Homo sapiens: one gene and its partner. The protein of the gene in region 1 interacts with the protein of each later gene in a pairwise test. Each region holds a gene or a part of one and is shown in the gene's direction. Other genes may lie near its edges. The genes, in order: UPF3B and UPF1.

Region 1 (3,813 bases):
ATCAGGGCAACAGTCTTTTCATCACAGTACCTAAGTCTCCTACCTCCATCAGTTGCTAGCTGTGTGACTTCAGGGAAGTTACTAGTTTCTCTGAGACTGTTACTGTAAATTGCAGATGGTAATACCTGCCTCACAGCATTATGAGAATCCATTAAAGTGGGAAAAATTCTTTGACCTATTTAGTTTCACACAAATGTAATATAAATACAAAAAGTTCGATGACTGATAAGGAATGTTTAGACAGTGGTAAGCCTTTGAAGGTCAATTGGTATTTTCTAGTAATAAGTTCATATTCCTAAAAAAATTTTGACTTGAAAATACGAAAAAATGAAATTAGTTACTGCAAAATTGAAAACTACTTGAGGAATTCTAGCTTGGATCTTGGTTCTCAGTAATAGGCTGTCACTACTGTATCAGTAGCTCTAAACATGAGCATAATCTTTGACCCAGGATTTCTACTCAGGAATTTATCCTAAGGAATATGTGGGGTTTTTTTGTTTGTTTGTTTGTTTTTTTTGCTTGCTTGCTCGCTCGCTCTCTCTCTGTGTGTGTGTGTGTGTGTGTGTGTATGTGTGTGTGTGTGTGTGTGTGTGAGAGATGGAGTCTTGCTCTGTCGCCCAGGCTGGAGTGCAGTGTCGCAATCTCGGCTCACTGCAACTTCCGCCTCCTGGGTTCAGGCGATTCTGCCGCAGTCTCCCGAGTAGCTGGAAGTACAGGTGTCCGCCACCACGCCCGGCCAATTTTGTATTTTTAGTAGAGCCGGGGTTTCACCATGTTGGCCAGGCTGATCTCGAACTCCTGACCTCAAGTGATCCGCCTGCCTTGGCCTCTGAAAGTGCTGGGATTACAGGCATGAGCCACTGTGCCCGGCCAGGAATATGTGTTTTAAGATGGCTGTAAGGCCAATAGCTTATTCAGAATGTTGAAAATGAAAAATATTCTTCCAAAACTTGACTTTTATTAATAGATGGATAGTACAAGCCTATTTCTGGTAACTTTCTTAGAATAAATTCCCAGAAGTGGAATTATGGGGTCAAAAGGATTAGATATTTTTAGCCCCTTCCCCCCAACTTCTTCCAGTTGAACAAGTTTACACTCCTATCAGTAAAACAAGAGAATGTCCTAAGTACTTAATTCTCATCAGTTGGGAATGACTCTTTTAATAAATTATTTTGTTGTTTTAATTTGAATTTCTTTACTTTTTAAAAGGTATTTTAATCCCGTATTGTTGAAATCGAATGCTGTAAAACTTCTTTCTGATATTACAATTGTGATCTTTCTGCATAAGGGGTGTACATGTTTTCCCACCTTGGGTGGTTGGCAGGGAATGTCAGAAAATGGAATCGTTTCTAGGGGTTGATAAGTATGATTAATAATCTGTTTACATTTATGTAGCTAAAAAGACAACCCCACTTTTGAGCTTCCTGAAAAACAAGCAGGTAAATCTTTTGTCTTTATAGTTCTCTCAATACTTTAATTTCTTTGCTTTGCATTCTATAAACATTTTAAGAGCATTGGGTTTCTAGAGGAGAAATAGCTGCTTTTTCCACCATTACTCTTTAAGGATTTGCCTTCTTGGTCTCACTCTCTAGCCTGCTCCTTCACTCTGGTTGTTGGACCAGGAGTTCACTCTACAAACGTGGAATGTTCTTAGGTTGTCCCAGAGACACTCATTTGATATTCTGAAAGCCTCTGGAGAGATAGTAAGGCAGCAGTGGAAGAATAATATTAGCAGGTTCTGGTCTTCATTGTCTTTCGTTTTCTGGGTGGAGTGGGGATAACGGTGGTAGAATGCCACTTTGTAGAAAGTAGGAAGGAAAGATTATTCAGTTGGGGCCTACCATGACTTCAGGATTTATTAGGGTTTTGGTGATGATTATTTTATTTGAAGGCTTGTGTTGATGTTTCTTTCTAGAGAATGAGAGAAGAAAAGAGAGAAGAAAGGAGGAGGAGAGAAATAGAAAGAAAAAGACAAAGAGAAGAAGAGAGGAGGAAATGGAAAGAAGAAGAGAAACGAAAAAGGAAAGATATAGAAAAGCTAAAGAAGATAGACAGAATTCCAGAAAGGGACAAATTAAAGGATGAACCAAAGATTAAGGTATAAGAATGTTGAAACTGACTGCATGTTGCTAAAAATTGCACGTATCTACTTCTTTAAATATGCATGCGTCTTGTGTTGGTGTAAATGAATTTTTTGTTTTGTTTTTGTTCTCTTTTGGGGGGAAGTGATCCAATAAAAATCTTTCCTGTAATAGTATTAGTTTTTAAATTTAAGATCATTTAAAAGGATAAAGTAGTATGTTATTTCTTCAGTGCAGATCTGTGCTGTTTTTGTCATTGAAAATGTTGGATTTTTAGACTATTGTCCTCTAAATTCATAGTAAATGAGGGCTTAGGGCTGGCTGGCATGATTTATGGTTTTTTTTCAGCTTTTTCTTCATAATTGATACATGAAGTTACCTCATCTGTTTGTTTTCCACTGTCTTCAGGTACACAGGTTTCTGTTACAAGCTGTGAATCAGAAAAATGTAAGGACCAAGTACATGATACAGAGCATCTAGTATCATGTCACACACACAGGTCTTAGCTAATAAGTCCTTTTGGTGGTGGTGGTGGTAGTGTTACTTGTTGAAAACCCCTTCAGGTTGACTTGAGTCTTCTTAAAAGCTGAGCTATTTTATTATAAATTTCTACTTTAAAAGGAAGCCCAGGTGACTTCCTGATGCTCTGCTGTGTGCCCAGAAGCTTCATTGACCTACAGCCAGAGGACAACCATGCCTATATAGTTCTTTCTCATCTTCTTATATGCTTCTCATAACTGGCTGCCTTGTGGGAGGACTAGGGATAAATACCCTGCAATATGTGCCTTTCCCTCTCACATGACTCCCGTAGTATCTTCCTGCATATATCTGGGAATCTGTGAGCAGCAGATTCGGATTCATGCATTGCATTTGGGAAGAAGAAAACCTGCAGAAAGATCCCAACCTTGCCACTTCCCTTCTAAGGGCATGGCTTGGGCAGCCCTTGTTTCAACATATTTCCTGGGGAAGTACTAGTACCTAGCACTTCAGATAAAGTCAAAGAAAATCTCACAGAGAGGGTGGCAGGGTCTCCTTATTTTATTTCCTGAAAACTCAGCAGTTTATGTAGCAAGGGTTCCCTAAGTCTCTACGGGGCTCATTACTGATGATGAGGGGCTTGGGGGAGGATGGAGTTTCTCATCTTAATTCTTTCCAGCAATCTCTCTGTCTGCTATGCCACAAGTGACTTGACTTGCTATTCCTAACAATCAGCAAGGCAGAAGGTAGAGCCAGCCATGCTAGAGACATTCATTAATGTTCTTATTAGAGTAATGAACACCTTGGTTTCTAATAAGGATGTTCATTGGAGAAATAAGAGCACTTCCAATGAAACCTGCACATGGTATCCTCATTTTACACTGGTGCCTTCTCAGTGTCCATTTTGGACTCACCATTTGCAGTGGCTGTCTGTGTGCCAAAATGCTTTGTGCTTATGTCTTGTGGTGCTTTGCCTTTTGCTTAGTAATTTACATGATGCCTTCACCCTGAGATGAACCTTGTGTGATACCTTCACTCTGAGACTTGAAATTCTTCTATTTTGCCTAAGAATCTCTCTGATTATCCGACACTTGGAGGTATTCTCGAGAGATTCATAGCAGCAATGTAAAAAACAATGGCATTTTTGAACATGCGTAAATATGGCATTAAATACAGAGTTCCTACTCAGTAGAGATGGAACTTCACTATTTGGTTGTATAAGGCCTTTAGATTTTTAAATCAAATGCCAAATAAT
Region 2 (3,813 bases), on another chromosome or scaffold:
GAAGTACATTTTAGGAAATTCTCTATTGAAGTGTAAACATGTGGCCACATTACAAGTGTCTGGCTCAATGAGTGGTTACTAAGTGAGCATATTTGGATAGCCAGCACCTGAACCCAGAACCACCTGACCAGCTGTGAGAAGCCGCCTCATCCCTGCAGGTGGCCACTGTCCAGGGGTGCGCATCCACAGCAGCCCCTGGGCTGAGGGACTTCTGAGCTCATCCGGCGGCCCCTGTGCTCGCTGTAACAGCAGTGATCCACTTGGCCTCATTTTCAGCTCGACGTGGGATCATATGATGTGTCCTGGCGTGTCTGGCTTCCTCTGTCCATGTCAGGCTGGTGCTGTGCAAAAACACCGGTTTTCTCCACTGATGGAAGCTCCCAGTAGAGTGAGGAGGGCACCTGTGAATTGAGAAACTGGTTTTACAGTTTTAAGGAAACGCAACAGGGCCCAGAAAAGCCAAGATGAGCATGAAGAGCCCGAAGAAAGTGGCTGCTCACATGGCAGGACGCCCCGGCCCCCAAGCTGCAGTGTTGGGCCCCGGCCCAGGAGGGAGCCCAGAGGCAGAGCCACCGGTCAACAGGCCCTCAGCAGGAATGGACAAGGCTGCAGGGCAGGGGGACACTGTTGGCTCAACAGTGTCACACACAAGTCAGTTGTAGGGGCTGTGGCGCCTTTAAGGCAAGCTTCTGGAAGGAAGCAGGAGAATATCCTGTATCCTGGGGTTGGCAGAGATCCAGGCTGCAAGAAAGCCCTGGCTGAGACCCTGTTCCCTGTTCAGGGGCTGAGCCAGCTCTGTGCTGGCCATGGTGCTCTCGGTGGCCTCTCCTCAGCCTTGCCCAATCCTGGGCATCTCTGGCCAGGGGACCGGCTCAGGTGACCTCACCAGGGCCTCACAGATCGAAGTCTCCTGCCCCAGGACCTGCAGCACTGTAGCGTAGCAACTACATTGCCCTGTGTCTGAACTCATTTGAGGCGGGCTAGGGCTTTTGAAGTGTTACTTCTTTCCCTCCCCTCACAGCGGATCGTGTGAAGAAGGGATTTGACTTCCAGTGGCCCCAACCCGATAAACCGATGTTCTTCTACGTGACCCAGGGCCAAGAGGAGATTGCCAGCTCGGGCACCTCCTACCTGAACAGGTGAGCAGGGACAGGCCCACCGGCGTCTGCAGGTCTTGGGGACAGCTTGAGAGGTTGTTGACCCATTCTACTTATTTTTAACATGGGACTGAAACTTTTTTTGCCTTCATTTCCTGTTTAGCCTGTTTAGACTCTAAACCGTGTTGTTTCTGCCTCCTTTTCCATTGTACTTGTTTTTTATTGGGCAGATACTTGCTAATCCCACATGGCAGCCGTTTCTGCCCCTCGAGACTCCCCTGGTGAAGGCTGGGGAAGCTCAGCTGTGCAAACGCCAGTGATGGCAGCTGCCTTCCCGCAGGGTGTTGTGTCTGCACCCCTCACGGCCTCCAGCCTCAGGGCTCGGGATCCCACAGGTGGAGCCCAGCACTGACAGCCTGGGTTTCTTAGGACCGAGGCTGCGAACGTGGAGAAGATCACCACGAAGTTGCTGAAGGCAGGCGCCAAGCCGGACCAGATTGGCATCATCACGCCCTACGAGGGCCAGCGCTCCTACCTGGTGCAGTACATGCAGTTCAGCGGCTCCCTGCACACCAAGCTCTACCAGGTGCGCTGCGCCCTCGGGCACACTTGGTCTCCTGGGCCATGCAAGGGTATTGACCCTTGACCTTTAAGTTACCCCCCAAGAGGGGCCCGTCCTGGCTGGAGCTCAGAATGGCCCAGGAAGCACCAGCTGGCCCACCCTCTGGGGAGGGCACAGACAGCACATCCCCACAGACCCTGCGAAATTCCACATGATCAGGACAGAGACTTTGAGAAATACATCACAGGGATCAGAAACATGGGCTGAGATTGGCACATCAAGGTGTTTTCTCGGGATGGTTGAAACAAGTCCAAGGTGGAACGGCAGTGGTCTGTGCCTGCCACACACTGGATGTTGTGCTGTGGAGACCGTGGTGTTCACACCTTTATTGACACCCGGATGAAACACCCACTGCGGGTGTGTGGGGAGGAGGCACAGCTCTGCCTCCATGAGGAAATGAGCCCAAGTGCTGAGTCTGAGTGGCCACATGGCAGTGGTTTCTGTTCTGTTTTTGAGCACGGCTCAGGTTCTCTGGGATGAGCACGTGTGCTCTTAGTGCTGAGAAACAAATCTCCGTGGCTAAAAGAGAACAGGCTAGGTGTCATGGCCCACACCTGGAGTCCCAGCACTTTGGGAGGCTGAGGCAGGGAAGTCGCTTGAGGCTAGGAGTTCCAGACCAACCTGGGCAACGTAGGGAGACCCTGCCTCCACCAAAAAAAAATAATAACTGGGTATGGTGGCATGTGTCTATGGTCCCAGCTACTCAGGAGACTGAGGTGGGATCAGCTGAGCCTGGGAGGTCAAGGCTGCAGCGAGCTGAGATTGTACCACTGTACTCTAGCCTGGGTGACAGAGCAAGATCCTGTCTCTAAAAAAAGAAAACAAAACGAAATGGCAGCAGAGCCAGGACAGCCCCTAGGTGCGGTGAGCAGGCGCCAGGCCCCAAGCTCCCGGGTGGGATTTGAGGGTGGGTCTTGGTGTGTTTCCTGCATTTTGGGGGGACTGGGAAGGCAGCCTGCTGGCTGATAGTGACCACAAAGCTCCCTTCCAGGAGGTGGAGATCGCCAGTGTGGACGCCTTTCAGGGACGCGAGAAGGACTTCATCATCCTGTCCTGTGTGCGGGCCAACGAGCACCAAGGCATTGGCTTTTTAAATGACCCCAGGCGTCTGAACGTGGCCCTGACCAGAGCAAGGTAGGGAGGCTGCCTGCTGCATGCTGCCCAGCCGCTCATCGGTCCTCACTTCCCAGGGAATTTGGGGCTAGGGTTGGGGGTTGCCAGGGCCAGAGGTCAGAGGACTCTGAGCAGCAGTTGAGAAACGATGTCTCACTGGAGAGATCTTTGTTTCCGTGTCCTGGGGGTTTGCTGTGGCCCCTGTGCCTCAGCCCAGCAGGACGTATTTTTCCAGGCCCTTCTGGTCTGATTCAAAATAAATCTTGTGTGTGTCTGTCAAGTTGTTTAATCTGAGAGGCTGTAAGTTTTGGTCCTGTCCACTATTTTTGGTTCTAAAATACAACTTTTGTGAACTGATGATAGCAGAAGGGACCCCGAGAACAAGGTGTCCATTCTGTCATCCCACATAAAACTAGACATCAGGCCAGGCATGGTGTCTCACACATGTAATCCCAGCACTTTGGGAGGCCGAGGCAGGTGGATCACCTGAGGTCAGGTGTTCTCGACCAGCCTAACATGGTGAAACCTCCTCTCTACTAAATACAAAAAAATGAGCCGGGCGTGGTGGCACATGCCTGTAATCTGAGCTACTTGGGAGGCTGAAACAGGAGAATCGCTTGTACCTGGGAGGAGGAGGTTGTGGTGAGCCGAGATTGCGCCATTACACTCCAGCCACTGGGCAACAAGAGCAAAACTCTGTCTCCAAAGGAAAAAAAAAAACACTAGACAGCAAGGACCCATTCACCAGCTGGAAGTTGGGGGGACCTGGCCTGTGGCTCCACCCAGCACAGGGAGAGAGCCTGGTGCTCCTTCCGGCTCATATGCGCGGTGGTTCTCCTCTAGGTCACCATGGCTTTGTCATTGGTTACTCCCTCTTTCTAAGGCGCCCTCTTGTTTGGTGGGCAGTATTGGGTGGGTCCCCCCACAGCTTCGTGAGGTGGGCTAGAGGAGCTGGGCATCGGGTCAGTGCCCCGGCCTGCT

What was found.
Region 2: the proteins of UPF3B (region 1) and UPF1 interact in binary tests that used the Homo sapiens proteins (3 or more experiments, as listed by UniProt).

The regions. Positions count from the first base shown.
Region 1 is NC_000023.11:119,839,361-119,843,173, reverse strand, and holds part of UPF3B (regulator of nonsense transcripts 3B), read left to right. Parts: intron 1-1,395; coding exon 1,396-1,439; intron 1,440-1,915; coding exon 1,916-2,098; intron 2,099-2,489; coding exon 2,490-2,528; intron 2,529-3,813. UniProt on the Homo sapiens protein: Involved in nonsense-mediated decay (NMD) of mRNAs containing premature stop codons by associating with the nuclear exon junction complex (EJC) and serving as link between the EJC core and NMD machinery.
Region 2 is NC_000019.10:18,859,300-18,863,112, forward strand, and holds part of UPF1 (regulator of nonsense transcripts 1), read left to right. Parts: intron 1-1,021; coding exon 1,022-1,139; intron 1,140-1,526; coding exon 1,527-1,683; intron 1,684-2,710; coding exon 2,711-2,853; intron 2,854-3,813. UniProt on the Homo sapiens protein: RNA-dependent helicase required for nonsense-mediated decay (NMD) of aberrant mRNAs containing premature stop codons and modulates the expression level of normal mRNAs.